4 linked regions of the Homo sapiens genome follow. The protein of the gene in region 4 binds, or shares a complex with, the protein of the main gene of each other region. Each region holds a gene or a part of one and is shown on either strand. Other genes may lie near its edges.

Evidence for each region.
Region 1: SRRM1 (region 4) and SNW1 share a complex: the UniProt entries of both Homo sapiens proteins name them as parts of the minor spliceosome.
Region 2: SRRM1 (region 4) and SNRPD3 share a complex: the UniProt entries of both Homo sapiens proteins name them as parts of the minor spliceosome.
Region 3: SRRM1 (region 4) and PLRG1 share a complex: the UniProt entries of both Homo sapiens proteins name them as parts of the minor spliceosome.

Annotation. Positions count from the first base shown.
Region 1 is NC_000014.9:77,750,691-77,758,566, reverse strand, and holds part of SNW1 (SNW domain-containing protein 1), read left to right. Parts: intron 1-3,446; coding exon 3,447-3,600; intron 3,601-7,086; coding exon 7,087-7,248; intron 7,249-7,876. UniProt on the Homo sapiens protein: Involved in pre-mRNA splicing as component of the spliceosome. As a component of the minor spliceosome, involved in the splicing of U12-type introns in pre-mRNAs.
Region 2 is NC_000022.11:24,565,493-24,573,368, forward strand, and holds part of SNRPD3 (small nuclear ribonucleoprotein Sm D3), read left to right. Parts: intron 1-2,491; coding exon 2,492-2,684; intron 2,685-6,423; coding exon 6,424-6,485; 3' UTR 6,486-7,876. UniProt on the Homo sapiens protein: Plays a role in pre-mRNA splicing as a core component of the spliceosomal U1, U2, U4 and U5 small nuclear ribonucleoproteins (snRNPs), the building blocks of the spliceosome.
Region 3 is NC_000004.12:154,533,977-154,540,748, reverse strand, and holds the end of PLRG1 (pleiotropic regulator 1), read left to right. Parts: intron 1-53; coding exon 54-155; intron 156-695; coding exon 696-798; intron 799-1,535; coding exon 1,536-1,644; intron 1,645-2,640; coding exon 2,641-2,780; intron 2,781-3,269; coding exon 3,270-3,463; intron 3,464-4,004; coding exon 4,005-4,064; 3' UTR 4,065-5,744; downstream 5,745-6,772. UniProt on the Homo sapiens protein: Involved in pre-mRNA splicing as component of the spliceosome. Component of the PRP19-CDC5L complex that forms an integral part of the spliceosome and is required for activating pre-mRNA splicing.
Region 4 is NC_000001.11:24,666,426-24,673,781, reverse strand, and holds the end of SRRM1 (serine/arginine repetitive matrix protein 1), read right to left. Parts: intron 6,968-7,356; coding exon 6,857-6,967; intron 6,800-6,856; exon of another isoform or gene 6,695-6,799; intron 4,660-6,694; coding exon 4,195-4,659; intron 3,663-4,194; coding exon 3,467-3,662; intron 2,397-3,466; coding exon 2,187-2,396; intron 1,601-2,186; coding exon 1,496-1,600; 3' UTR 501-1,495; downstream 1-500. UniProt on the Homo sapiens protein: Part of pre- and post-splicing multiprotein mRNP complexes. As a component of the minor spliceosome, involved in the splicing of U12-type introns in pre-mRNAs. Involved in numerous pre-mRNA processing events.

The sequences.
Region 1 (7,876 bases), on a different chromosome or scaffold from region 4:
CTCAGAGTTTGGGGTGAAGTGGCTATTTTGGGTAAGGTGGTCAGAAAACAGCTCTAGAGAGAGGTAACTGAGCAGAGACAAGAGTGCTGAGATGCAAGCTGTTGAAAGATCTGGGGCTACTCTAGGCATACTGCCTGTGGGATAGCCCTGCCCAGCAAGGAGCAATCAAAAAAGAAAAGATCTGGAGATCTGGAGAAGAATTTTCTATAAAAGCATACGAAAATTTGTTCTTTTTTTTTTTTTTTTTTTTTGTGGCAGAGTCTCACTCTCACCCAGGCTGGAGTGCAGTGGAGCAATCTCAGCTCACTACAAACTCCACCTCCCAGGTTCAAGTGATTTTCCTGCCTCAGCTGGGATTACAGGCGTCCGCCACCACGCCCGGCTAATTTTTGTGTTTTTAATAGAGACAGGGTTTCACTATATTGGCATGGCTGGTCTCGAACTCCTGGCCTCAAGTAATCCACCTGCCTTGGCCTCCCAAAGTGTTGGAATTACAGGTGTGAGCCACCTCGCCCAGCCGGAAAAATTGTGATTGATTGCAATAGATAGATAGATAGAGAAAAATTGTGATTGATTGATTGCAATAGAGAAAAATTGTGATTGATTGATTGCGATAGATAGATAGATAGATAGATAGATAGATAGATGATTAGATTGATTTGATGGCAGAAGGAATAGCCAATGTAAAGATCCTGAGATGGCTTGTTTAAGAAAAGATAAGAAGGCTGTAGTGAAATAAAGATGGTGAGTGCTGGGGAAGAGTGTATTTATTTCTCCTACAACATTTAAGGAGCTCGAGCTGTGAGCTAGAAGTCTTGGAGCATTAGGGATGAAAGAAGCATAAGGCGTGATTCCTGCAGAGCTGCTCACAGTCTCATGAAAACAGAATAGTTAAATGAGTAGATGATTGCAATACAGTAAGGTAATGTTGTAGTAGTGGTATGTAGAGCGTTTTGGGGGAGCATAGAGACAGGCAGTTAACCCAAACTGGAGGAGTCATGGAACAGCCCTGAAATAATCAAACATACAGAACCTGTATTGAAAGTGTCTAGATACTATACCAACTGGTTCATGGATTTCTCTCATTTAATACTTATAAGAACCTTATGAAGTAGATACTCTTATGAACTATTATTACAGATGAGAAAACAGATTCAGAGAGGTAAGTAGCTTATCCAGGTTAGTAAGTGGCATAGGTCGGATCTGAATTCTGAGCCTAGCCATCACTTACCTCCCCAGACTGGATTAGATCCCTCTCATGTAGACTGTCATAGCATCTATATTTTTCCATCATAACTTAACATAATGTGTAATTATAGATTTGTGTGATTTTTTTTTTTTTGGTCTCTGTCTGCAAGACTAAGCTGTCTTTCTCCATTTATAGTCTCATGCCTAGCATAGTGCTTGTACCCAAATAATAAATATTTTTGAATAATTAATAAGCTCTGCTACTTAGGTATGCTTACTATCCAAGAATCACAAAGGAACTAAGGTTATTTTCTCCATATTCATCCATCAGGATCCTTTTGTAATACTTTGGAGTATCACTGTAATACTTTAATACTTAAAAGTTGTTAAGAACCATTTAGTAGAAAGGTTACCTTGACTAAAGAATAAGCTGCATCTTCAGGGCTTCTGCTTTGATTCTTTGGCCTCTAAGGGTTTTTTTGTTGTTGTTTGTTTGTTTGAGATGGAGTTTTGCTGTTGTTGCCTAGGCTGGAGTGCAATGGTGCAATCTTGGCTCACTGTACCCTCCACCTACCGGATTCAAGTGATTCTCCTGCCTCAGCCTCCCGAGTGGGATTACAGGCGCACACCAGCACGCCTGGCTAATTTTGTATTTTTAGTAGAGACAGGGTTTCACCATGTTGATCAGGCCGGTCTTGATCTCCTGACCTCAAGTGATCCACCCACCTCGGCCTCCCAAAGTGCTGGGATTACAGGTGTGAGCCACCATGGCTGGCCTGGCCTCTAAGTTTTAAATTTCATTGTAGATACCCTTGACACTTAAATATGCAACTTGTGTTTATTTTATCCACCTCTTTTTTACATTCAGTTTTAATCCTAGTTCTTTTGTATTTACACTGAAGTAGTTTAAAGTAAGGAGCATAATGGTAAAAATGTTAAAAACAAGGAGTAGCCAGGCGTGGTGGCTCATGCCAGTAATCCCAGTACTTTGGGAGATGGAGGCTGATGGATCACTTGAGGTCAGGAGTTCGAGACCAGCCTGACCAACATGGGCCAACATGGCAAAAACCAGTCTCTACTAAAAATACAAAAAATAGGGATGTGGTGGCATGCACCTGTAATCCCAGCTACTCGGGAGGCTGAGGCATGAGAATCACACGAATCCAGGCGACAGAGGTTTCAGTGAGCCGAGGTTGCACCACTGCACTCAAGGCTGGGCGACAGAACGAGACTCTGTCTCAAAAAAAAAAAGGAGTATAAGAATAGCAAGTATATACTGGACAGTTTATCCCTGAAGTATTAGGAATGTTTACTTGTTTGTTATAAGAAATATGGAAACAGGCTGGGCGTGGTGGTTCACACCTGTAATCCTAGCACTTTGGGAGGCCGGGGCGGGCACATCACCTGCGGTCGGGAGTTCGAGACCAGCCTGGCCAACATGGCGAAACCCTGTCTCTACTAAAAATACAAAAATTAGGTGGGCGTGGTGCTGCACATCTGTAATCCCAGCTACTTGGGAGGGTGAGGCAGGAAAATCACTTGAACCCAGGAGGTGGAGGCTGCAGTGAGCTGAGATGGTGCCACTGCACTCTAGCCTAGGTGACACAGAGAGACTCTGTCTCAAAAAAAAAAAAGGAAAGAAATATGGAAATACGGAAGCATGGCCAGGTGTGGTGGCACACGTCTGTAATTCCAGCACTTTGGGAGGCCAAGGTCAGCGGATCACTTGAGGTCAAGTTCAAGACCAGCCTGGCCAACATGGTGAAACCCCATCTCTACTAAAATTGCAAAAATTAGCCTGGTGTGGTGGCGCATGCTTGTAATCCCAGCTACTTGGGAGGCTGAGGGAGGAAAATCACTTGAACCCAGGAGGCAGAGGTTGCAGTGAGTGGAGATGACACCACTGTACTCCAGCCTGGGCAACAGAGTGAGACTCTTTCTCAAAAAAAAAAGGAAATATGGAAGCATAAACGCTTAAGAGTTTGTCTGTTATGTGAAATATCTGTTAATTTTTTATTCTGGACATCATTTGCTGTTGTCCTAGTCAGATGTTTTTACTGTGTATCTTTGAGTACTTCTGTCTTCCACATATTATAAAATGGCTAGTATTGAGTACTACCATAAATCATTGAAAAATCTGCTCTTTTTCTGAAAAGTAAAAGCATCGTAGGAAAAATTGTCTCTGTGGCCAAGTTGCAGTGGTCAAATTAAACATAAGAGTTTTTTAAATTTCTGACTTTTATTATCTTTGCTTATAGCTTTTTACCTGCACCTACTCAGCTATCTCAGGACCAGCTTGAGGCTGAAGAAAAGGCAAGATCCCAGAGATCACGGCAGACCTCACTGGTCTCCTCCCGAAGAGAACCTCCCCCGTACGGATACCGGAAAGGCTGGATACCTCGGTTATTAGAGGTACATATAGATCTTAAGTTTAGATTTGTTAAATTGTGCTGAAATTTATTATAGCACACTATAACATAAATTTAAATGTTAGAACCTCTGATTATGAATGTCAGTGTGATAGAAATTCTGGTTATGTGCTCTCAAGATGTATATTTCCCTCAGAAGATGTATCATTTTCTTTTTGCTTATTATCTATCACTGCTTTGTGGTCACTAGAGAACTGTACCATTTGTCTATTCCTATATCAAACTATTAAATATTTACAAGAAAACTAATATTTTATAAATTCAGGAATTACGGAAAATAATGGGAAAGTAAAAGATAAGAGAGATGAAAGTGGTTTTCATATTTGGGCTCCTCCTCCTCCTCCTCCCCTCCGATAATACCACATAACCCTGAAGAGACAACTTTCCTTCAGGGAAAACTCCAGTAGCACTTCCTTTGCTGATTTCTTTCTCTTCACCTGTTTTCTTACCTTTAATTTGAGAATGTTAATATATATCTGATATATAGATTAAATATATTTTTGCGGGTATAAGACAAAATTTGGTTGATTTGAAGGCAATGAGGGAGAAGGAACCATCTGGAATAGCTCTTTCTATCTCTAGCTTGTTGCCAAATAACAAGCTTCCGGTCGGGCGCAGTGGCTCACACCTGTAATCCCAGCACTTTGGGAGGCCAAGGCGGGCAGATCACCTGAGGCCAGGAGTTCGAGACCAGCCTGACCAACATGGAGCAACCCTGTCTCTACTAAAAATACAAAATTAGCCAGGTGTGGTGGCGCATGCCTGTAATCCCAGCTACTCCGGAGGCTGAGGCGGGAGAATTGCTTGAACCTGGGAGGCAGAGGTTGTGGTGAGCCAAGATCGCACCATTGCACTCCAGCCTGGGCAACAACAGCAAAACTCCATCTCAAAAAAAATAAAAAATAAAAATAAAAAGAACAAGCTTCCTTGGCAGCACCTATTCTAATTACTCAGGATCCTTTACATTAATTAATTAATTTTTATTTTTTTTATTTTTGGGATGGAATCTCGCTCCGTTTCCCAGGCTGGAGTGCAGTGGTGCGATCTTGGCTCACTGCAGCCTTCGCCTCCTGGGTTCAAGCGATTCTCCTGCCTCAGCCTCCCAAGTAGCCAGGATTACAGGCACGTGCCACCACATCCAGCTAATTTTTTGTATTTTTAGTACAGACAGGGTTTCACCATGTTTGCTAGGCTGGTCTTGAACTCCTGACTTCAGGTGATCCACCTGCCTCGGCCTCCTAAAGTGCTGGGATTACAGGTGTGAGCCACCGCGCCTGCCCCACACTCTTTATTAGAGTTTATAAGAGGAACACCCAACTAGATCATATCTTGTCCTATGTATTCCAAAAAACCCACATGTAGGTCTTTTTGTTGCTTTTTTGTCAGCTTTCCTCTGGTCCTTATGAATGCTGGTGTGTGAAGGCCAGTCATATTGCAATTATTAAGGGATTTTTGTTGCTTTTGTTCTCTCTGATAGTGTTATTTATGGGAGGCAGAGGAAGATGAAAGATTATCAAGGAGTCTTACCTGGGGCAAAAAAGTAGTGATTGGCATCATCTAATAGAGCAGTTGAGTGTCTCTGTTGAGGCATTATAAATATTGTTTGGTCTGTCAGTACATTGCACAATGAGGGTGACAGGCATCATCTTACATAGAATGTAAATCTCATCCATGCATTTCAGCATTACGATACTTGGTTGCTATTAGATTTTTAGATTCTTACTTGGCTATCAGTGGTTTCATATATCCTGGTGAAACAGAACAACTTATTTGAAAATCAAGTTGAAATGGCTAGCTAATCTGGAAATGCTATGGATGCTGCTTGAGGGGAGTGAATGTTCTGTGGAAGAAGGCATTTTGTTCTAGTTTTCAAAATAAAAGCTATGATTTTCTGGCAAGCTTAATGACCACATAATGCTACAGCTACAGTTCTGAAGTACTTATTATAGTTGAAAAACTCTAGCAAATCCAAGCATGTGTCAGATTGATGGCTTGGGTACGGGAAGCACTTATCTTAGGAATGCTTTAACTCTTTCTCATTTACAAGAAAATGTCTCTCAGCTTTATTCTCTTGGTTTTCAAAAACTTCAAACATCTCTTTAGCAAATAAGCATATTGTACTTAGGAACTCATATATCTTAGATCTAACGGAGTATTACTTAAAGAGGTCTTGTAAAAGTGAATATTTTCTTTTTTTTCCATCAAACCCCCTCTAAATGATTAATTTTAATTTGTGTTTTCTATTATTTCTTAATAGTACTCATTTGGCTGTTTTGAGCTAAAAGAAAGGTATTTCATAGTAGTAGAAAATACAAAGCTTTTCGGAGTCTCAAAAGATCTGGGTTCAGGTGCTGCATATAATACCTATGAGATCTCAGGAACACCGCTTAATTTTTCTAAGCCTGAATGTTTCCATTTAAAATGATGTTAAAGAGTTACAAGGATTAAATGAGATAATACATGTGTGAATCATGTTTAAAGTGTACTAAGCAAATACTACTGAATTTTTTTTAACTACTTAAAAATTATACTTGATCCTCATGTTTATTTGATAAACCTTTTTAAAATACTACATTTCATCAGCAAACTTTATTTAGCTTGTTCTACTTTAGCAGTCTCAGTTCTCTCTCCTAAATAATTATGTATAATCACTAGTAGAAATGTAGTAAACTCATTTCTGGATCCTTCCTATTGTATTCATTTGCTTCTCACATAACAATGAATAAATAATATGTTAATAAAATCTGATTCCAAGAAAAAATCTTTTATATTTCTGCCCCAAGTATAGCTTTACCTGTTCCTCACTAAAATATGTATTTATATGCTAAAATATATACACATATATTTTGCCTTGTCCTAGCCATTTTACTTAGTTTCGTCCTGCATATATGAAATCCACATTTTCTTGCTGTAGCATGTAAGTCCCTTTGTGATCTGGTGTTTTTTACTCATGTAACTTGTGCCTCAAGCTCTGCTGTCCTTATTAAGCTGTTAGCCCCACTGAATTCTCATTTCCTAAAATATACCAAGCTCATTCTTGCAGCAGGGCCTTTGCATTGGCTATTTGATCCATCTAGAAAATGCTTTGTGTGTGTGTGTGTGTGGTGTGTGTGTGTGTGTGTGTGTGTGTGTGTGTGTGTGTGTCTTCCCATGACTGCTTTCTAATCATTCAGGCTTTAGCTCACATGTTACTTCTTCACAAAGGCTGTCCCCAACCACCCTATCAAAAGTAGCCCCTTTTCCCAGTCTTTTTCTTTTATATTACCTTCATGGTACTTATCACAAGCCAAAGAATGTGTTTTTTATATCTTTGCCTACTAGAATGTAAACTCCACAAGAGGCAGGGAACTCTGCTGTATCTCTAGCATCTAGCATACTAAGGACTCAACAATTACTTGTTGAATGAATGAATATATCTTGAATGTCAAATGATGATTAACTATTTTATTTAACTACTTCTAATGTGTAGGATTTTGGAGATGGAGGTGCTTTTCCAGAGATCCATGTGGCCCAGTATCCACTGGATATGGGACGAAAGAAAAAAATGTCGAATGCGCTGGCCATTCAGGTGGATTCTGAAGGAAAAATTAAATATGATGCAATTGCTCGACAAGGACAGTCAAAAGACAAGGTAATCCTCTCATGTTTTCCCTGAATGATAAATATTTTAGGAAACATTTTAAATTTTGTGGACACGATAAATCTCTTGCTGTTTGAATTATGTTAAAAGTAGCAGTGGCTGGGCATGGTGGCTCGTACCTATATTCCCAGCTACTTGGGAGGCAGAGGTAGGAGGTTTGACTGAGCCCAAGAGTTTGAGGATACAGTGAGCCACTGCACTCTTGCTTGGGTGGCAATACCTTGTTTTAAAGGGGGAAAAAAGTACATTTTAAAACAGTTACTTTATATTACTAGCATTCTAAAACTGCCAGTAAATTTTTAAAAATCTGCAACCCCAGAGCCTTACCATCAACTTTTAATTTATCCTGTAGTTTCTTCTAGTTTTTTCCTATAGTCTTGACTCATTTCCTCCATGTACTTAGAGTACTTACATGTACTCTATTACAAGTATTTAATAGTTTATTTGAGTATAATAAATTACACAAACTTCTTTTGCCCTAGATTAAGTACAAAACTAGCATTTGCTATCCAGATTTAGGATGGCCCTGCTACGAAGTAATCCATAGGCCAAAAATAAAATTTGCTTAAAATAATCTCATCACAGAACAGCTACACTCAGGGCCAAGGAACTATTTTTA
Region 2 (7,876 bases), on a different chromosome or scaffold from region 4:
TTGTAGTTGAGGGAACGGAGGCTCAGGGAAGCCTGGAGATATACCTAGGGTTACACTTCTGACAAATGGCAGAGCTGGATCTCACCTATAGGTCTTTAGGCCTATTTTGTGTCTTCTACAGAGTCATGAGTGTGGCACAGTCCCCAAAACACGTTTTTTGTTTGTTTGGTTTGTTTTTTGTTTTTTGAGACGGCGTCTTGCTCTGTTGCCCAGGCTGGAATACAGTGGCGTGATTTTGGCTCACTGCAACCTCTACCTCCCGGGTTCAAGTGATTCTCCTGCCTCAGCCTCCCGAGTAGGTGGGACTACAGGCACCTGCCACCACACCCGGCTAATTTTTGTATTTTTAGTAGAGCCAGGGTTTCACCGTGTTTGCCAGACTGGTCTCAGGTGATCCACCCACCTCGGCCTCCCAAAGTGCTGGGATTACAGGCATGAGCCACCGCGCCCAGCCCCAAAACACATTTTAATTGTCAGTCAGATTCAGGTGAGCCTGAGTTGTATCCAGTTTCTGTCTTGGGTAGTCTGACCATAAACCTGGCGTTCATTTGTGGCACTAGAGGTTATGGTATTCTTCAGGGGAAGAAAAGGATTGGTAAGGACTTGGGAACTGGATGAAAATTTAATAACAGGCTGGGAGTGAGGAGCCTGGAGCAGAAGGTTTATGAGAAACTGGAGCCCTGTTGCCCCTGAAGGTAGAACAGGGATAGTGGGTAGAAGCTCTAGAAACCATTCCTCTAGAAACTGCTCATATACAACAGGGGCGGCCCCAGAGCATAGTTTTGTTTGTTTTATTTTTGAGAGGATCTTGCTCTGTGGCCCAGGCTAGGGTGCAGTGGCTCCATCACAGCTCCCTGCAGCCTCGACCTCCCAGAACCAAGTGATCCTTTCACCTCAGCTTCCCGAGTAGCTGGACTACAGGCACATGCCACCACACCCAGCTAATTTTTGTAGAGATGAGGTCTCACTGTGTTGCCCAGGCTGGTCTCAAACTCCTGGGCTCAAGTGATCCTCCCACCTTGACCTCCCAAAGTGTTGATATTACAGACATGAGCCACCACACCTGGCCCATAGTTGTTCTTTTCTGAGTGTTCAAGCAGAGGCTGGGTGGCCAGTTAGCACTTGAGGAAAAGAATGAATGAGTATAAGATGGCAGCTAGCCAGACAGAAATCTGCAGAGACAGCACATCTTTCTACAATAAGGGCTGACCCATTCTAAATAAATTATAGTTCTCTCTCTTCAGAAGGTTCATACAATAAGCTGCTTTTTCTGTAAATGTGGTGCTTGTTGAGGTTGATGCTGGCAGATTGGTATCACCCTCCCATGCCAAGCTGGTCTCACCTTCAGGCTCCCCATTTGTCCATCCTGCAGTCTATCCTTGTTGCCACATTTATCTTTCCTGAGTGCTGCCTTAACCCTATTGATCTTTCCTCTATCGACAAACTTGACTGACTCCTTTATCTGAAGTAACGACCCCGTCCAGTGTCATTATTCGACTGCTCTGGTCCTCACATCCTGTAGGCTCCTGCCCAAGTGCCTGCTCTTTTCCTTGTGCAAGCTCTTGCCTCATAACCCTCCAGTAATTTCAGGCCCTTTTTACAGGCCTTGTGGTACCACCTCCATTTCTCAGTCCCTAGTCACTCAACCTAGAGGGTTCTGTCTCACCTTCTAGAGTATGCACTCTGGAGGGTCAGAACCACATCTGGTATATACTTGTGACCTTCATGGTGCCTTTGAAATCTGAGTGCCAGGCAGTGCAGGGGAAGACAGTTTGGACCAGCAGTTTGAAGCTGTTTTCGTTAGGGTTTAGCACCTTCAAGAGCTCTTCACATCTTTGCTCAGCAGGCAGTGCAGCACAGCCAGGGCTCTGAAGCTAGGCCAGCTGGTTCGAATCTGGAGTTCCCTGCATTCCAGCTGTTTGACCTGGGATAACTGCTTTGGTTTTTTTAACATGTAAAGATGGGAGCACTCGGCTGGGCGCAGTGGCTCACACCTGTAATCCCAACACTTTGGGAGGCTGAAGCGGGCAGATCACCTGAGGTCAGGAGTTCGAGACCAGCCTGTCCAACCTGGTGAAACCCCACCTCTACTAAAAATACAAAATTAGCCGGGCATGGTGGCGCATGCCTGTAATCCCAGCTACTCAGGAGGCTGAGGCAGGAGAATCGCTTGAACCCGGGAGGCAGAGGTCACGGTTAGCCGAGATTGCACCATTGCACTTCAGCCTGGGCAACAAGAGTGAAACTCCATCTCAAAAAAAAAAGGGGGGGAGCACTCATACCCACGCTGAAGGTGTTGTGAGGACTGTTTAGGTAAAGTGCTCAGTGCAGTCCCTGGTGTACACAGTTAGTACCGATGATTGCTGGGTAATTCACCAGCTTTGTCACAATGTCAGTCTGCTTTTCTGGACTTCCCCCTCCCACCAGTCAAGGCCCTCCCCACCGCTGGTGCTGTTGACCGTTAACTTATTAGCTGGTGATTTCCTTCCAGATGTCCAACATCACAGTCACATACAGAGATGGCCGAGTGGCACAGCTGGAGCAGGTATACATCCGTGGCAGCAAAATCCGCTTTCTGATTTTGCCTGACATGCTGAAGAACGCACCCATGTTAAAGAGCATGAAAAATAAAAACCAAGGCTCAGGGGCTGGCCGAGGAAAAGCTGCTATTCTCAAGGCCCAAGGTAGGTGCTTTTCATGCACAGGTTTTAAAATATAGGTTTGTCTTGTGTCTTGTAGAAAGGGGCCCTATTACTGCCTGGAGACAGAGAGGGTTTGACCTCTGCTCTCTCCACACCCACCACCCACTGCCACCCCTTCCCCTTGCAGCGTGGAGTGATCCTGTGAGGCCATTATTTTATTTTTTTGAGACAGAGTCTCGCTTTGTCACCCAGGCTGGAGTGCGATGGTGTGATCTCAGCTCACTGCAACCTCTGCCTCCCAGGTTCAAGCAATTCTCCTGCCTCAGCCTTTCAAGTAGCTGAGATTACAGTGCGCACTGCCCTGCCTAGCTAATTTTTTTATTTTTAATTTATTTTTATTTTTATTTTATTTTTAATTTTTTTTAATTTTTTTATTTTTTTGAGATGGAGTCTCGCTCTGTCGCCCAGGCTGGAGTGCAGTGGCGTGATCTCGGCTCACTGCAACCTCCGCCTCCCGGGTTCAAGCAGTTCTCTGCCTCAGACTCCTAAGTAGCTGGGATTACAGGCACCCGCCACTGCGCCGGGCTACTTTTTGTATTTTTAGTAGAAACGGGGTTTCACCACCTTGGCTAGGCTGGTCTTGAACTCATGACCTTGTGATCCACCTGCCTCAGCCTCCCAAAGTGCTGGGATTACAGGCGTGAGCCACTGCGCCCGGCTTATTTTTATTTTATTTATTTATTTTTGTATTTTTAGTAGAGATGGGATTTCACCATGTTGGTCAGGCTGGTCTTGAAGTCCTGACCTCACATGATCCACCTGCCTCGGCCCCCTGAAATGCTGGGATTACCAGTGTGAGCCACCGCACCTGGAGAGGCCCATCTTTTCTAGAAGTTCTGTGTGAGAGGTGTGGGATCGCTTGCCCTTGTCTAGTTTGCCGAGCAGACACAGCCCGGAGCAGATGAGCTGACTCGAGTGTGAGGGCAGCATTTCCTAGCGAGACTGGGTCTTATGGATGGACACCAGCATGTACTTAGGGAGGTCTGATAGTGGAGCTCCGTTTTCAGAAATAAAGCCACCTTTTAGTACATTCCAAAAGTGGGACTGTCCTTTTCGCAGTCCCCTAGTCTGGTCTTGCTTCTTGGTTAGCCTAATTTGGTTTTATATTTAGGTTCATGAAAGTTCTGTCATGTTGATTAGACAACAAAGTAATTGTGGCCCTTGGAAACTGTCTTAGTGTTGGTAAAAAAGGTTTGCAGCCAAGGAAGGCACTGGATTCTTCATTGGTATCTTTAGCTGCTGTACATGTTTTATATGTGTGTGAGGAAAAAAGTCAAACTGTGTTTTTCCTCTGCTCTCACAACACAACAATCAACAAAGACTTCTGTGACCAAGCAAGCAGTCAGTTCTGCAGTAGACACCAGCTGGGTGTCCTTCAGTTCTGACACTATCTACCTGGAGATAGCCTGAAAAACCACAGGTTGAGGGCTCGGTCCCACAAGACAGCCCCTGCACCCCCCACTATTATTCATAAGCACAGGCCTCCAGAACATCTGAATGGCTTCAAGCCAGGGTTCTCACGTCTCACTCCTTGGGTTCGATTAATTTGCTGGAGTAGCTCACACAACTCGGGAATCACATACTTAAATTTACTGGTTTATAACAGGATATTTTATAGGCTACAAATAAACAGCCACATGAAGAGATGCATAGGGTGAGATCTGGAAGGGTCGCAAGCACAAGAGCTTCTAGCCCCATGGAGTTTCCTCCCGGCACATGGATGAGTTCTTGTTCACCTTCCTGTCAGGCTGCGCATGATCAGCTGTCCCGAAGCTCCCCTAACCCTGCCCTCTTGGGCCTTTTATGGAGACTTTATTGGATAGTCATGATTAAAGGATGGACAACCATGTGGAAATGCCATTAGACAAAATGGGTGTGATCTAACACTAATAGACGGGGTTGGGAAACCCCGCGAGGCCTGTCCAGATTCTTTTTGGCCTCTCTCTGCAGCATTTGTTCCTCCAGGGTATAGGGCAGGACCTTTCTCTGGAGTGAGGTCTTATGACCCACAATCAGATTAGGGTCCTGCCTTGGGCAGGTGAAAGGAGGGCAGGAGAAGTTTCAAGAGAGAGATTCTGTCTCCTGAGTCCTGCTTCTGAGGCCTAAAGTGCCCCAATGTTATAACAAAAGACTATAACAAGGACTATAGGAGTTACGAGCTGGGAACCATAGATGAAAGCTCAAGTTTAAAGATGTAATAGTGTGAGGGGCCGGGCGCAGTGGCCCATGCCTGTAATCCTAGCACTTTGGGAGGCCGAGGTGGGCAGATCACGAGGTCAGGAGTTCGAGACCAGCCTGGCCAACACAGTGAAACCCCGTCTCTACTAAAAATACAAAAATTAGCTGGGCATGGTGGCAGGTCCCTGTAGTCCCAGCTACTCGGGAGGCTGAGGCAGGAGAATCGCTTGAACCCAGGAGGTGGAGGTTGCAGTGAGCCGAAATCGTGCCACTGCACTCCAGCCTAGGTGACAGAGCTAGACTCCATCTCAAAAAAAAAGAATATTTTATTTGTTCTTCAAAGCCTGTCTTCTCCTAGAACCCCTGGGTTACAGAGGAGAACAGCAGTCTTATCATGCTATTTATATGGAGTGTGTTTTCTTTTTGCTACTATGAAATAATTCTTTTTTTTTTTTTTTTTTTTTGGAGACTGAGTCTCCATCACCCAGGCTGCAGTGCGGTGGCTTGATCTCAGCTCACTGCCACCTCCTCCAACTCCCAGGTTCAAGTGATTCTCTTGCCTCAGCCTCCCAAGTAACTGGGATTACAGGCGCATACCACCACGTGCAGCTAATTTTTGTGTGTTCAGTAGAGAAGGGGTTTTGCCATGTTGGCCAGTCTGGTCTCAAACTTATGACCTCAAGTGATCTGCCTGCCTTGGACTCGCAAAGCCCTGGGGTTACAGACATGAGCCACTGCACCCAGCCTGAAATAATTATTTTCTCAGAAAAAAATACAAAAGATAATATAACCCTTCTCCCAGATCTAACACATGTTAACACTTAACTATATTTGTTTCAGAATTGAAAAAATTAATTCAGTGCATCTATAATGTTTTTCAGCTCACCCAAGGCCAGCCCCAAGGATTTGTCTTTTCTGTAGCTCTCAGACCACCTTCTTTGCCCTCAGCATGCTGCCTCCCAGCCTCTTGTAGAGAGCAGTGTGGGACTGGAAGGCAAGAGTGTGCTGCTAGCTCCTGCTTTGATGCCAGTCCCCAGCCCCTGCCCCTCCGTCTCCATCCCCCCTGTTAAATGCAGTGGCTGTCAGCTGGACGTGTTGGCTTATGCTTGTAATCCTGACACTTTGGGAGGCCGAGGTGGGTGGATCACCTGAGGTCAGGAGTTTAAGACCAGCCTGGCCAACATGGTGAAACCCTGTCTCTACTAAAAATACAGGAAATTAGCCGGGCGTTGTGGTTCACGGCTGTAGTCCCAGCTACTCAAGTAGGAGGCTGAGACATGAGAATCGCCTAATCCCAGGAGGTGGAGATTGCAGTGAGCCGAGATCATGCCACTGCACTCCAGCCTGGGTGACAGAGTGGGACTCCGTCTCAAAAAATAAAAAAAAAAAAAGGCGGGAGGTGGAAATGCAATGGCCAGGGTGGTGTTGGACCAGGTAACCCTTCAGAACCCTTCTAACTGGTGTCCTAGGGCCCTGGCTACTCTGTGCTATGAGCATTCACCGACCACACTGACCTGGCCTCATATTTTCTCTTCCCTTTCAGTGGCCGCAAGAGGAAGAGGACGTGGAATGGGACGTGGAAACATCTTTCAAAAGCGAAGATAATTTTCTAAGTTGAACAGAACTTTGTCCTTTTTTCTTTCAGGTTATCTGAGTTCATTGGAGTGGGTGCTTGTGCATATATGCTAGGTATCTTTTGCCATCTTTCTCTTTAGATCAGGGGAAATGTTTAAGCTAAATAAATCTGGGGGGTTTTTTGTTCTGTTTTGTTTTGTTTTCTTTGAGAAAATAAGGACTTTGTGTTCATTTGAAGTTTGCTTTGGCTAAATTTTGACACCCTGGGGGATGTCCTGGGAGAATGCCAGTACTTTGAAATAGCACAGCTATTGATGAGATTTTAAGCTGCTGTTCCTGGCCAGTTGCAGGTTAAGCCCCAGAAAAGTTCACCTTGGAGAAGCTCCGAGAACACACAGATTGTGTCTCATTCATCTTCAGACACAGGCACATAGTGTGGCACTTTGTTCAGTTAACATTTGTGGAGCTGTCATCAGCTCAGCTTTAACAACACAGGTGACTCTTTCCCTTGATAAAGTCATAGGTAATTCAGGGGCTGGGTGCGGCGGCTCACGCATGTAATCCCAGCACTTTGGGAGGCCAAGGCGGGCGGATCACGAGGTCAGGAGTTCGAGACCAGCCTGGCCAATATGGTGAAACCTCGTGTGTACTAAAAATAAAAAAATTAGCCGGGTGCGGTGGCATGTACCTGTAGTCCCAGCTACTCGGGAGGCTGAGGCAGAAGATTCGCTTGAACCCAGGAGGTGGACATTGCAGTGAGCAGAGATCATGCCACTGTACTCCAGCTTGGGTGACAGAGCGAGACTGCACCTCAAAAAAAAAAAAGTAATTCAGGGGATCCTAGTGGCCAGCTTCCTTGGCTCGTATACTGGCTACAACAAGTAGTTTTGTGGTGATTTGTGGAAACAGATTCTTGGGAGCATATCAGAGCATCTCAGCATTGATTGGCACATCCATAGTTGTTAATGTAGGAAGGGTGACCAGCAGCTCAGCACAGTGGCTTGCTTCCAGCACTCTGGGAGGCTGAGGTAGAGGATTGTTTGAGAGGAGTTCAAAACCAGCCCGCGAGACATAGTGAGACCCTGTCTCTACAAAAAATTCTAAAAATTAACTTGGCATGGTGGTGCACACCTGTAGTCCTCGCTACTAGGGAGGCTGAGGTGGGAGGATCACTTGAGCCTGGGAGTATGAGGCTGCAGTGAGCTATGACCTTGCCACTGTACTCCAGCCTGGGCAAAAGAGCAAGACTTTGTCTTTAAAGAAAAATAAGTAGTAGTAAAGAGTATAAGATACACAGGGTGAATAATTGTGACAAAAACACAGAAACTGGAAAAGCAGCCTGAAAAAATCAAATCACCAAAAAGAGGTCTTGCCAGGTATTCATTATGGTATGAGCTACAGCATAAGCCATCAAGAGGAAA
Region 3 (6,772 bases), on a different chromosome or scaffold from region 4:
TACTATTTATCTTTCTAATTCTAGAAGTTTTAACTTTCCTGCTTTGTCTTTAGGTTATACGGCATTATCATGGACATTTAAGTGCAGTGTATGGTTTGGATTTGCACCCGACAATCGATGTGTTGGTAACCTGTAGTCGAGATTCAACTGCACGGGTAAATGGGATAGAGTTGTGTATTTATCTGTAAATATATTGCATCTTGTAGGGTGCACTTTCGGTTTCAGTGTCTTCAATTGATTGATAGAGAATTAAAGATAGCTGTCTTGAGTCATCAATATCCTAGTCCCTAAGTTTCTTAACTTGCATTTTTTTCCACCTTAGTCTTCAGTTGTATGGCCTCACCATGTTAGTGTTATTAGTGCCCTGCCCCTGAAATGTGATATTCTCACGTTCCATTCTGTAACAACTATTGTCCATTAGTTCTTTCATTCAGTAGTCTTAAAAAGTAGTCCCATCATACTCATTCTTAGATTTTCAGTACCCTGATCTTTTAGCTTTTTAGAATTCTTGCAAGTTGTCTCCTATTTATATTCGTCCTCCAGTTTGTAAATCATTATCTTTCACTTAAGCATTTTCTTTATTATATTCAGGCACTAGTTATGTAGTAAATTTTCAGCCTTGAATTGATCCAGTTATCTTCTTGAGATAATGAATACCTATTCTCTTTCCTAATATGTCTATTGTGTTTTTATAGATTTGGGATGTGAGAACTAAAGCCAGTGTACACACATTATCTGGACATACAAATGCAGTTGCTACAGTGAGATGTCAGGCTGCAGAACCACAAATTATTACAGGTATGATCGATACTTTTCAAGTTTACAGAATATTCATGTCAGAATCCATGTTATTATACATATACTTTTAATATTCATGATGACTCTTGCTCTGTATTGTGTTTACAGTGTTTCTGTGTCATATTTTAATCATGGACAATTGAAATGTATTCAAATGAAATTTCATTCCACTGTTTTTACCTCATGCTTTTTACATATCATAGAGTATGCCATACATAGTATCCTGTAATGTCTGACTAGAATACTGTGTTATGAACAATTATTATTTTATAGTGTCAAAATTATTTTTCTAAGAAATTGAAGTTAGAAGACAAAACATCTTGAGACTAGTAATCTTTAGAACTGATTTGAATCTTACTTTGCTCTAAATAAAGTTAGTAACAATGGATCTTTAATACTAGAAAATAATTCCTTTGCCTGATGTATTTTATTAACTTAAAAAAATCATTGAAGTTTTTTCCTTTTCACTAGGGTATACAATTATATATTTATTTGTTATTTGCATTTGTTTTAGCTGTTCAATTGACAGTGAATCAATTGTTGTATTGCATTTTTTTAAAGAATTAAAATCAACCTAAAAATTTGGAACTATGAAGAAATTAGCCAAGACTAATTTGCGTGTGATATGACTTTCATTTAGAACATATGTGTTTTGGAAGAATGCTTTGTATTTTATTTAACTTTTGCATTATTTTTCCTGGTCTATGTTTTGAGGGATATATGTGTTTCCATTACAGGAAGCCATGATACTACAATTCGATTATGGGATCTGGTGGCTGGAAAAACAAGAGTGACATTAACAAATCACAAAAAATCAGTTAGGGCTGTGGTTTTACATCCAAGACAGTAAGTGTATTTTCCTAATTAGCTTCTTGTTTTTCTTCAGTTCTTAAGATAATGCTGAAATGCTAGTGGTGTTAGCACTGCTTTTGGCAGTCATTTAGCTGCTGTCATTTCTAGGCCTGTGCCGCATAGGAACGTGTGTTTCTTTTATTTTCCTCATGCACTATTTTGCTTCATGCCCTATAAAACATGAGGAAAGCCTTCTACTTGATAACAAATAAATAATGTCAAATGAGACAGTGTAAATCATGATTAAATGCTGCATGTCAAAATAAAAGATATTAGTGGCTAGGCTTAATGTTTTGGACATAAATGATTTTGGACACTGAGACATTCATTGAATAGTTTAATTCTTAAGGAGGAAGTTAATATATGTAGAAACAGAAATAATAAGAACCGTGAACATTACAGTCAGAGTATCCAAAAAGGTGGAGCATAATATCACAACTATTGTTTGGTGTATCAGATCACTCTGACACTTTTCTGGATTCTTCCTCTCCTTCCTTTCCTCTTCTCTGTCTTCTACTCTCCATACCCTTTTCCCCCTCTCTTCTTCCTTCCTTTGCTTATCTTTCTCACTCCCATTTCGCCTCTCCTCCCTCCTGTTCTCTCTCTTCCTCTTGCCCTCTATTCCTTTTCTCTCTTTCTTCCTGTCCTGTCTTGCTCTCCCTCCCTCCAAAAGAGTTGCATAACACATTGCCCTTCATGTGAAATAGGGCTTCTGCACATTTATTGCTCTGGCTTAGTGCAGAGCATTAAGGAAATGAAAGGAGAACAAAACATTAATCTAGGACTTAAAATATACTGTTAAAAATGTGAAGGTCTGATTTAACCTTGAACAAATGTCTTAATATTTTTACATTTTGATACGACTATTTTGCTGAATATATAAATCATTGAGTACACACTGCAAAATATAACTGAAATAAACTTTTTAAAACCCACCACTTTATTTAACTTGGTTTACTTTGTCGTTAATTCTTTTTAATATTATTTCAGTTACACATTTGCATCTGGTTCTCCAGATAACATAAAGCAGTGGAAATTCCCTGATGGAAGTTTCATTCAAAATCTTTCCGGTCATAATGCTATTATTAACACATTGACGGTAAATTCTGATGGAGTGCTTGTATCTGGAGGTAAAATAAGATTTTTATAATAAATATGTTTAGTCTGTTATTTTTTCTTTTAATGATGAATAAACATTTGTAATGCTTCTAAGCTGTCACACTTAAGTATTATAGCAGCACTTGCCTGGTTAGGGCATATTTGCATGTTATTATGTGTGTTCATGCATATTCATATTACATGTAGTATATTTCATAGCTTAGTCCTCTTTGAGTTCCCATCTAATGAATCTCAGGGATTTATGCTGGGAATTGCTTAAAATTTTGTTTATTATTCTGGAATTGGATGTCAGATTTTCAGGTGCTTTTTAAGATCTATAAGTTCTGAACCCAGCCCAAATGAAAGTAGACAAACCAATATTAAGAGAAGGTGGAGTGCCTGTGTCTTATGTATTTTTATAACCGTAGTATTCCCATGCTTGGGCTAATGATGCTTCATAAATGTTTGTCAAGCTGTACTGCTGAGGGGATACCAGGTGTAACTAGATTTTTCCCTTTAAGCTGACAATGGCACCATGCATCTTTGGGACTGGAGAACTGGCTACAATTTTCAGAGAGTTCACGCAGCTGTGCAACCTGGGTCTTTGGACAGTGAATCAGGAATATTTGCTTGTGCTTTTGATCAGTCTGAAAGTCGATTACTAACAGCTGAAGCTGATAAAACCATTAAAGTATACAGAGAGGATGACACAGCCGTAAGTTCTGTGTTTCACATTCGTTAAGTAAAACAGCTATACCAATTTGGCAGCATATTCTCATTTAATTATCAGAAGGAAAAATAATCTTTATAGTATTTAAGATATCTGTCTTCTTGAATAGTGTCCATTTATATATTTCTATATTGTTTCACTGATGCCAGTGAATCCATGGATGGCTTTAATTTTATCCCAACTTCCTTTGTTATAGTTGCTGGGAAATGTTGCACCAAGAATAACAGCAAATAAATAGATTGCTATGTAAATTAATTCGAGAATCATAAGCTTTGGTGTTAGTAGAATATCCAAGTAGAAATGTTATTTTAGATGGAAAACTACAAACTAAACATAATGAATCCATCCATCTGTTATTAGACTTGGATAATGCCAGAAGTTTATCAACTCTTCCTAAAACTGTCAAAGAACTAAGTGTATAAAGCCAATGAATAATGTTAGATACCTTATTTTTGTTAGAAAGGAAGCCTATTAGACATGAAGCAAACTAATAATACTTTATTTTAACTCACTTTTCTATTTTTAGACAGAAGAAACTCATCCAGTCAGCTGGAAACCAGAAATTATCAAGAGAAAGAGATTTTAATGAATGTGGAATTTTTTCTCTCTCTTTTTTTTTCTTTTTAATTAAAAAAAAAAAAGCTTGGCGTTCATGAGGATATCCAGTCATTTTGTGCTCTGGCTGGGAATATAAAGGAGAAATTCACTTGCTTCAATCATTGCTGCTTCATATTTTACAATAAACTGTCCCCTGTCCCCTACCCCTGTGTTTTTATTTCTAAAACAATTTGTGATACTAGGAAGATGCAGATATCAAGTAAATGCAGGTTTATTGAACATAACTATTCTAGATGTAATATTTTGACAGTCTTATTAGAAAACCCCCTTTTTTAAAAAAAATGTATGAAACCGATAATTAGGACATTTGAAGGAGCAGTAGTTTTTTTTTAGTCCTTTAAAAAATAACATCTGTGACTAATAATTTGAGATTAAAAGATTTGAAGTCTTAATTTATGTATGTTTATTCCAAAAACAGTTTTTGAGTGTATGTTCTACAAAGTTCTGCACTAGATACTGTTCAGGAAATAGACAAGTAAGATGTGTCTATCCTCTAAGACTTCCAGTTTGGTAGCTTAGTATAGAAATTCTGTAACAGAGGTGCAGGTGAAATGCTGGGGGAACAGAAGGGATAAGACCATTTATTTTTCTCAGGAAGGATTGTGGAAGACTTCATAGAGTAAGTGGCATTGGAGATTACCTTGAAGTGAAGGAAGACAAAGAAGGAAAAGAGATGAGGCATAAAGTGATGAAACCAGGCACAAGAAAGTGTGCGGTGTGTTCTGGGACAAAGAATGTTCTGCTACTGTCGAATAATGGGACTAAAGCTGGCTTGTTCTGGGGAAAGCTCATATAAGTATGGATTTTATTCCTCAACTAGTAGGATACCAATACTGGTATTGAAACTTGGGGAAAATAACTGGAGATACCAGTGCAGCTATTTAAAGCTGTAGCAAGGGCTGCAATCTTGCGGAGATTTTAAAGAGAAGTTTTAAAGTTTCTAATACTGATGCCTCTTTTTGGTAAATACAAGTTTTATAAATCCTGCCCTGGGATCCTGATTCCCCATTAATCAAGATTTGTCAGACTTCACCTTCTATAATTAGAAAACACAGTTATAAGAACAGTCAATTTTTTAAATTTTCCAAATTAAAAAATTGCACCATGATTTTGAACAAGCACTTCCAATTACATTACCCATCTTGTATGCCATAGGTGGGAGTATAATTGTCACAGCCTTTAGGAATGTAGTTTTCTGGGATTTATTGAAACTTTGAACCTTTTGGCCTACTAAGTTCATTCCTAGGAAACTGCCTAATGGGAATGATCTGACAAGTGTACACAAGCAAAGTCATTGCACCTTTGTTCTTTAATACTTAAAACTAGCCCAAATGCCCTGTCAGTAAGGGACTGGTTTAATAGATGGTACCTTTATGCAATTTGTTTCTAAGTATTCGTTAAGAGAGTGAGGAATGTCTGGATTATTAGGGCAAGATTTCTAAACTTGGGTAAAAAAAAAAGTTGTGCAAGCATTTTTGTGGACAACTTGATGCTCTAAAATATAAGTAACACCACATTACTAACAGTGGCTTTGTTAGGAAGCAGAATTATGGAAGAACTTTCATGGGTGGCTTTACATATTTCTATAATGTTTTAATTTTCTATAAGCATGTATTTCGTAAACTTAAATAAAGAAAAAAGAACACTACACTTGCATTCCTGAGAGATTCTGATATGCCTTCTAACAAGAAAAATCAGAGGTGGATGCTGTTCCATCTCTAAAGGCCAAGAAGAAATTACTAGTACAAGGAGATGAGAAAGCCCCTACCGACCTGTCTGGCAAAGCTTCAACTATTGTGTTCAAGTTAGGTATACGTATCAAATTCTGAAAAGCATTAAAAAAAAATCTCTTTCCCTGCTCCATGCTGCCCTGTATTACAGTGTTCTTGAATCCTCTGTTGCATTAATTCATATACCATAATGTGTTTGTGAACCCTATGAAAGATGCAGAATTTCATGCATGTGCCCTTTTACTTACCTGACAGACATCCAACCAGGGTTAAGCTCAAATCTTTTCCACTGCCCATTCCGTACAGCTTGAGTGTAGTCAAGCTATAAAATGTTACCAAAGAAAAACAGCTCCACTGACTGGACTCATTCTTGGTCTATAACCACATATCTCAAGTGGGCCATCAATAATGACCAAATACACATTTCCATAGTTAATGCCTTCTGCCTGCTGTTACAGAGGATGAGCAATCTGCCTCACAACAATTCCCTCTGTGCAGTTGTTGCCATACACTCTTGCCCACTCAAGGACCTTGCTCCCATGATTAAACTCTTTCTCTCCTGTACCATGAATTTCTTCCCTCTGCCCTAAATGAGTGTCATCAACAAATAGGTTGCAATACTGCTTCTTAGAAAAAAAAAACACTAAACCTATTGTTTCCCTCTAGGAATACACCCATTTCTCTACTCTTACAGCCAAACTCTTAGAGTTTTTGATAAACTTATTTCTATTTCCTCACTTTACATTTTTTCAACCAATTGCAAAAAAAAAAAATAATGAAAATGTGTTAAACATTTTTCTTTTGAAAAAAGGAATTGGTAAGTTAATAAGGAAAAATAATAAATACTGATTTTTTTGGTACAAAAATAGATAAAACTAGATAAGCCAATTAAACAGAAATATAAATAATAGAAACAAAGGGAGGAGGGAAGTAATAACTAAAAGAG
Region 4 (7,356 bases):
TCAGCTTAGGTTTCTGGTGAACTTCTTTCATACGAATGTTGCTGTTTTACCTCACACTATGTTAACAACTCCAAGTTTCCCCAAATTTTCGTTCCACTTAGTTTTAAATGCAAAACAGACTTGGTTGTAGATAGCCAAATATTACGTGCGCACGCACACACACACGCACATACACACACACAACCCCCCCCCCCCCACCCCGCCCCTGACAGAGGGTGTTCCAGTCATTCCTTAGCCTTTGTTCACTTCCTAACATGCCAGCAGGCTCCTTCTGCCTCAGGGAAGACACAGACACTGTTTGTCTGACTGCAATCCTGTTCTCTTTGCCTGGTGGACTTCTCCCACCAGTATTCTAAATGTTCCAATCACATGCTGATTCCCTTTATAGCACTCACCACAGTAATTATTGAAATAAAGATGGTAAAACCTTAATTTCATCACCTTTTCTTTCCCCTGCCCAACTCCCAACACACCAAAAGGTTTACATAAGCACTACTAAGTAAGAGTGGCAAAATTTTTAAATTTAGAAATTTATTCTGTTTAATCCACAAGCTTTATATAGCTTTAGTTTAAAAAAAATCAAAACAAAAAAAAAATCAAAACAAAAACAGTGAAACCAAGACACTATTCCAAAGTCTGGGCCCTTCCAGCCTTCCAAATACAAGAGGCTCTGAAAGTTGTATATACCAATTGGAAGAACAAGACAAAAATATGAACAGAGCCATGACATTTCATTAAACAAATTGTATGTAACTGAAGGATCCTTTCTGGGACTAGCTCATTGCCTTTACAAAAGAAAAAAAACAAAACAAAAAAAACAAAACCAGAATAACAGAATGAGAGTCCAGTGTTCCAAATCAACTTGTTACACATCAATATAAACCCACAGTGTCCTGGCAAACAACATGCTTTCATTTTCTGTCTCATCCTAGAGCTCGAATCCTGATTCATTTCAGCAGAGACTCCACAGGCAACAGGAAAGATTGTGGCATTAAAATATTCATTTATACTTTTGTGGTAGTTCAAAACAGTGGTCTTATTTCTGGGCAAGCTTACAGACCATACAAGGTCAGAAGCATAACTTAAATGGGAGCTAAGACTCAAATGAAAAAAATAAGAAGAAGAAAGAAAAACAAAAAGAAAATCAAAACCAAAAAAACAAACAAAAAAACCCCTCTGGGAATAGCTAGGGCATTTAAAGGAACCATAAAAATGCCAACAGTATTTAAACCCCCTTTTTTAAAAAGGGAATTTTTTTTTGGCTTAAAATATTTCACTCAATGAATTATGTCAGCTGTCAATGAAAGAATGTCACTAATACACTGTGGACACCTTTTGCAATGTAAATCCATGCCCCCTTTTTTTACATGTTGAACTTCAACCTAGCAATTATTACAACAAATGTTATAGTCTAAAGCTCAAACACATTTTAGCAATTTTGAAATTGAACTGCGTACAAACCAAATAAAATTTACATCATAACAAACATTTCCCCCTAAGACTGTGGGGACACTTGGGCCTTCCTCATTGATCTCAGGGCCTTTTCACGCAGGTGCTTTTCTAAATCATCAAGGTTATCTTCAGCTTCACTTTCAGTCTCCTAAAAAAAACAGAATTTACACGGTTAAGTCTTGAGACCCTGGTGGGAAATGCCGAGTAAAGAGCAGAATCAAAGTGTGGGAGGGGAACATCACACACCGGGGACTGTTGTGGGGTAGGGGGAGCAGGGAGGGATATACCTAATGCTAAACGACGAGTTAATGGGTGCAGCACACCAACATGGCACATGTATACATATGTAACAAACCTGCACATTGTGCACATGTACCCTAAAACTTAAAGTATAATAATAATAAAATTAAAAAACAAACAAAAAAAAAAACCAACCTCACAAATCTTTTGAGTACTGAACTGTATGCAAATATAATGGCCACTGTGGATAGTTAATATTTTAAATAAATAAGTCACCTTTATAAAAAAAAAAAGTGTGGGGATCGCTGCACAACTGATATACTAAAACCCAGGGAACCACAAACTTTAAATGGGTGAACTGTATGGTACGTGACTTTTATCTCAGAGTAACTGGCTAATTAGTAGAAAAAACAATTTTGCTACTTCTCAAAACAAAATGACTTTGCTATCTGTACGTAAACTGCAAGACAGCCATATACAGAGTTCATAAATACCTTCTTCGGCTCTGGCGCTGCCACTGGCTCTTCCTGTGCTAATGTGGTTGTGGCAGCTGCAATGGCTGCAGGGGTCACAGCAGCTGCAGCAGCTGCAGCCACAGCCTTTTCCTTCTTGTGTTTTTTGTGCTTCTTGTGCTTCTTATCCTTTTTGTGTTTCTTGTCCTTCTTTTTCTTCTTTTTCTTTCCACCTCCTTCCTGATCTGAATTCTAGGAAGAAAAAAAAACAACACCCAGCATTTATAATCAATCTGATTAATATTCTGTCCAACTGAACATTTTATTTCCTCAAATCCCCAATGGACAAATCTCAAGATTTCCGAAAGGCTTTGGAGGGTGTGAGTGGGGAAGGCCCAAGGCCAATTATCACCAAGAAAAGTATTCAAAAGTCAGGGGCTATCTCCAGGATGAGCTCAATTCCAGCTCCTGAACTATTTGACCTTAGACAAATTGTTGAACTCTTTCTGAGACCTTTTTACCTAAAATAAGTGTAATAATCCCTACCTGATAAAGCTCTTGTGAAAATTAAATGAGAATATCTGTAAATCACCCATAATACTTGCCTAACATGTAGCAGACTTTTAATAAATGGTACCAGCCATTAGTCTAAACACATGCCTGTATGAATGCCATGTCTCTAGCTACCATCTGAGCTCTCCTATCTTTAGAGTGGGGATGACTGGTTCTTCCTCATGACACACATACCAAATTTATGCAAAAAGCAGGCTCCTATAATTTAATCCATAATATTTCAATTTCACACTTCTAAGCAATTACTTAAAATTCCTCACAAGTTAGCTTGCACAACTATTCAGTCAACCCAATTAAATATGGACATCTGAGGCCACAGCAGGAGGATCACTGGAGGCTAGGAGTTCAAGATCAGCCTGGTCAACACAGCAAGACCCTGTCTCTACAAAAAGTTAAAAACAAAAAACCAGCCAGGTGTAGCAGCATGTGCCTATAATCCCAGCTACTTGGGAGGCTGAGGCGAAGGGATCACCTGCGTCCAGGAAGGCTGCTGTGAGCTATGATCATCCCACTGCACTCAGCGTGGGTGACAGCATGAGACCCTGTCTCAAAAACAAACAAAAAACAGATGGACACCTAACCACTGATTTTATGCAATACAGAAACCTGCCCAAGATCAGATGTATAACTCACAAATGGGAAAAAAAGTTTAAACACCAATATTTTAATGCCCCAATGACATTTTCTCTGCTTCAAAGTGACCATATACATATTTATAAAAGGGTGTCCAAAATAAGGCAGACACATACTCTTGGCGGTGATGGGCTCGGTGTTGGGCTTTTGGCCTTTTTGACCGGTACAGCTGGTGACCAGTTTGTAGACGGTGACTGAGACTGGACGGGGGATGGAGGTGCTGGGGGCTTTTTAGCTGCTGGCTCAGGAGACCCGGAGACAGATCGGGAGGATGAGACCCTTCTTACAGACTGTGGGCTTGGGGAAGCAGCCCTAGACAAAAAGGAAAAAACATTCAGCATTGAGAACAGCCATCTCTCTTCACATGAGAAAACCACCAACTACACTGTACAACCAGGTTATGAATTTCAAATATACCACTTAGATTGCTGGTTGATTCAACTAACATATATCCAATTTACATTACCTATGTTTCCCAGAGGGTGGCTAAAGCCCCATAATCCTCTATCTATTCTGTTAATGATGCTTCTTATGTAAGATTAGTAATGTCAGTTCCTTACATCACACACAAGAAATGTTCAATGTCTTACTCAAGTTTAGTTTTGGAAGCATACCCCTCAAAAACAAATTAATAACTGCTAAGAACCAAGTAAAAGCCTGTGGCATTTAACTTATACCACAGAAACTATCCCAAAAAATGGAATAAGATCTGTAAATAGTACCTCAAGTTTGACTTAAAAGCTCATATTCATAACTTATTCCTTTTATATGGGGGTGGGGGGAAGCTTCCAAATATAAACAGCTATGTAAGTATTCCTAATGGAAAAGCATAAAATATTTTTACTTTTTTATCTTTTTAGGTTCCGGAGTCCTGGAGACTCTCCTAATGGGCCTAGTACTTGGAGACGGGGACTGCCTTCTTTGGGGTGATGACGACGCTCCTCTTCGAACGGGTGGAGGACTTGAGGAGGTCTGAGGAGCTCGAGGCCGTGGTGAGGGCGAATGCCGTTTGTTTGGTTGTGGTGATCGGGCCTCCCGGGTAGAGCGGCTTGGGGAAGACCCTTTCCTATGCTTGGATGATAATGAAGGTGAACGTCTCTTGGTGACTGGGGAGCTTCTTTGTTTGGGAGGTGGAGAATGGGAGACCCGCCGCTTTGGTGGTGGAGATGGTGATGCTCTTCGTTTAGGAGGGGGAGGAGGTGAAGCCGTTCTTCTCTTTGGAGGTGGAGAAGGAGAGTATCTCCTCTGTATTGGAGGAGAGTATCTTCTAGGAGAAGGTGAGCGCCGACGTGGGGGAGGAGAAGGAGTCCTAGGAAAAAGATACATAATTAAGCTGAAAGGCTCAACAAAATACAGAAACAGGATGAAAAGTAATCAGTAGGTTTGGCTATACTGTAGTTAGCACTAGGCAAAGGGAATATATTTATAAGTGAACATGCTATCTTTATATTCTCACTTAAATATCAATAAAACTTGTTTATCTCAGCTGACTGCAACACAGGACACTGTCTGCAGGACTAAGTACAAAAAAGAAAAAAAGACATTTTGATTAACAAAAATTTGCAATTTTCAGAAGATGTGAATTTGTCAATCTTTTAACATCTATACAAAATTAACGTTTTTTGAAAACAGAATCTTGCACTGTATTAACTGAACATCAGTTATTATATAATAACCAAGTAACTGTATTAGCAAAACTCTATTATGGTCACCTTAGGAAGTCTGCACTTTAAAGAGGTCTCCTATGTGGTATCCTCTCTGAATGAGCATTTGGACACTGTATGAATAATTAAGAGTTCACTGCACAAGCCTTAAAGACACTTCTACCTCCCCTCAAAGAGACTGTTCCATTTTCTGTCTCAAAAGGCCACTTTTCAGGCCAAACTGCCTAATTTCCTCTTGGATATTGCAGACTTTTAGATCAAAGTAAATTCCTGCCCAGAGTTAGCTTTACAATAGGCCATATATTTTGGCAATGTGGTAGGGCACAATTTCATCACTGTATCTGGGTAATTACTTAGTAATTCTCAACTCCCATTTCCTCACCTGAAAAATGCAAACAATACCAACTATCAAGCAAGGTCGCTTTGAAGACTAGTAGTAAAGCATATAAAGCACCTAGCACTTTGCCTGGCACTTAACAGGCATTCAAGAGTGGCAGCCAGGCTGGGCAGAGTGGGTCACACCTGTCATCCCAGCACTCTGGGAGGCTGAGGCGGATCACCTGAGGTCAGGAGTTTGAGACCAGCCTGGCTACCATGGTGAAACCTCATCTCTACAAAAAATACAAAAACTGGCTGGGTGTGGTGGCAGATGCCTGTAATCCCAGCTACTCGGGAGGCTGAGGCAGGAGAATCGCTTGAACCCAGGAGGCGGAGGTTACAGTGAGCTGAGATCGGCCACTGCACTCCAGCCTGGGTGACAGAGTGAGACTGTCTCAAAAAAAAAAAAAAAAAAAAAAAAAAAGAGTGGCAGCATGTCATTACATTGCTTGGCAACATATCCGAGCAATGACATTAAAACATTTTCCCCTAATTTTCACTTTAAAATAGTTGTAAAGAAGAGCTACAAAAATAGGAGATTTGCCACTTCACCATGCTAATATTTTATATAACCATAAGAAAATTAGCAAAACTGTAAAATGAACCTCAGTGATAACTTAGTATTACTAAAATAGCAAACAACCCAGTTTTCCACTACTGAATGTCCCTTTTCTGTTCCAGGACTTAATCAATGTTCCTTTTCTGCTCCAGGACCCTACATCTCTTTAGTTCTTGCCAATCTGTGACTGTTTCTGTCATTGTCTTTCATGACTGACACTTTTGAATACTGGTCAGGTATTCTGTAAAATGACTTTCAATTTGGGTTTGTCTGATTATTTCCTAATAATAAGACTGAGGTTTGGCATAATTGGTAAGCATACTACAGAGGTATCCAGGAAATACACGATGCCAATGTTTTATTGAGGATGTTATCTTTGATTATTTAGGTAAGAGATATCTGCCAGTATCCTCTAAATTTTCTCTTTACAATTACTAGTCAATACCATCTTTTAATGTATTAACATCTTTATGACAATACATGATTCACCTGCTATAAAATCTACCTATTTACCCATTTAAGGTCCATTTAAAGTATACAATTAAATGATTTTAGTATATTCATATAGTTCTGCAGCTATTACCATCCCCATGTCCACCCCACCCTAATCTGTTTTCTATCTCTATAGATTTGTGTATTCTAGACTTTTCATATAGATGGAATCATACGTGTTCTTTTATGACTGGCTGAACAATGCTAGTCTGCTTACTCTAATAAGATATAATCATCAGAAAGATTCAGAGATCCTTTTGTAGTTCATAAGCATGATGATTGGGTTTTCACATGCACACATGAGCTGTGCCTCTCTCCAACCTTGTTAGGAAGTGAGCACCATTACTCATCTGATGTTATCAGGGGCGGGGGGAGTTGGGGAGATGCTCCAGTTAGCATATTTGACAAAGTACCTTCGTCGTGGTGGTGGTGTGGGAGTCCTGCGCCGTCGAGGAGGAGGGGCGGGAGAAGGAGACCGTCGCCTTCTGGTGGGTGGTGGGGATGGACTTCTCCTCCGTCTACCACTAAACCAAGAAGAATTATAGTTAATTTTTTTTCTTTTTTTTGTGTGTGTGTGATGGCGTCTCACTCTGTCGCCCAGGCTGGAGTGCAATGGCATGATCTTGGCTCACTGCAACCTCCGCCTCCCAGGTTCAAGCAATTCTCCCCCCTCAGCCTCCTGAGTAGTTGGGATTACAGGCACCCATAATCATGCCTGGCTAATTTTTTAAAATATTTTTGTAGAGACGGAGTTTCACCATGTTGGCCAAGCTGGTCTTGAACTCCTGACCTCAGGTGATCTGCCTGCCTCAGCCTCCCAAAGTGCTGGGATTATAGGTGTGAGTTACCACGCCTGGCCTATATAGTTAACTTTGAGTCAGTGGCATTTATAGTTAAGTGACCCAGAAGACAC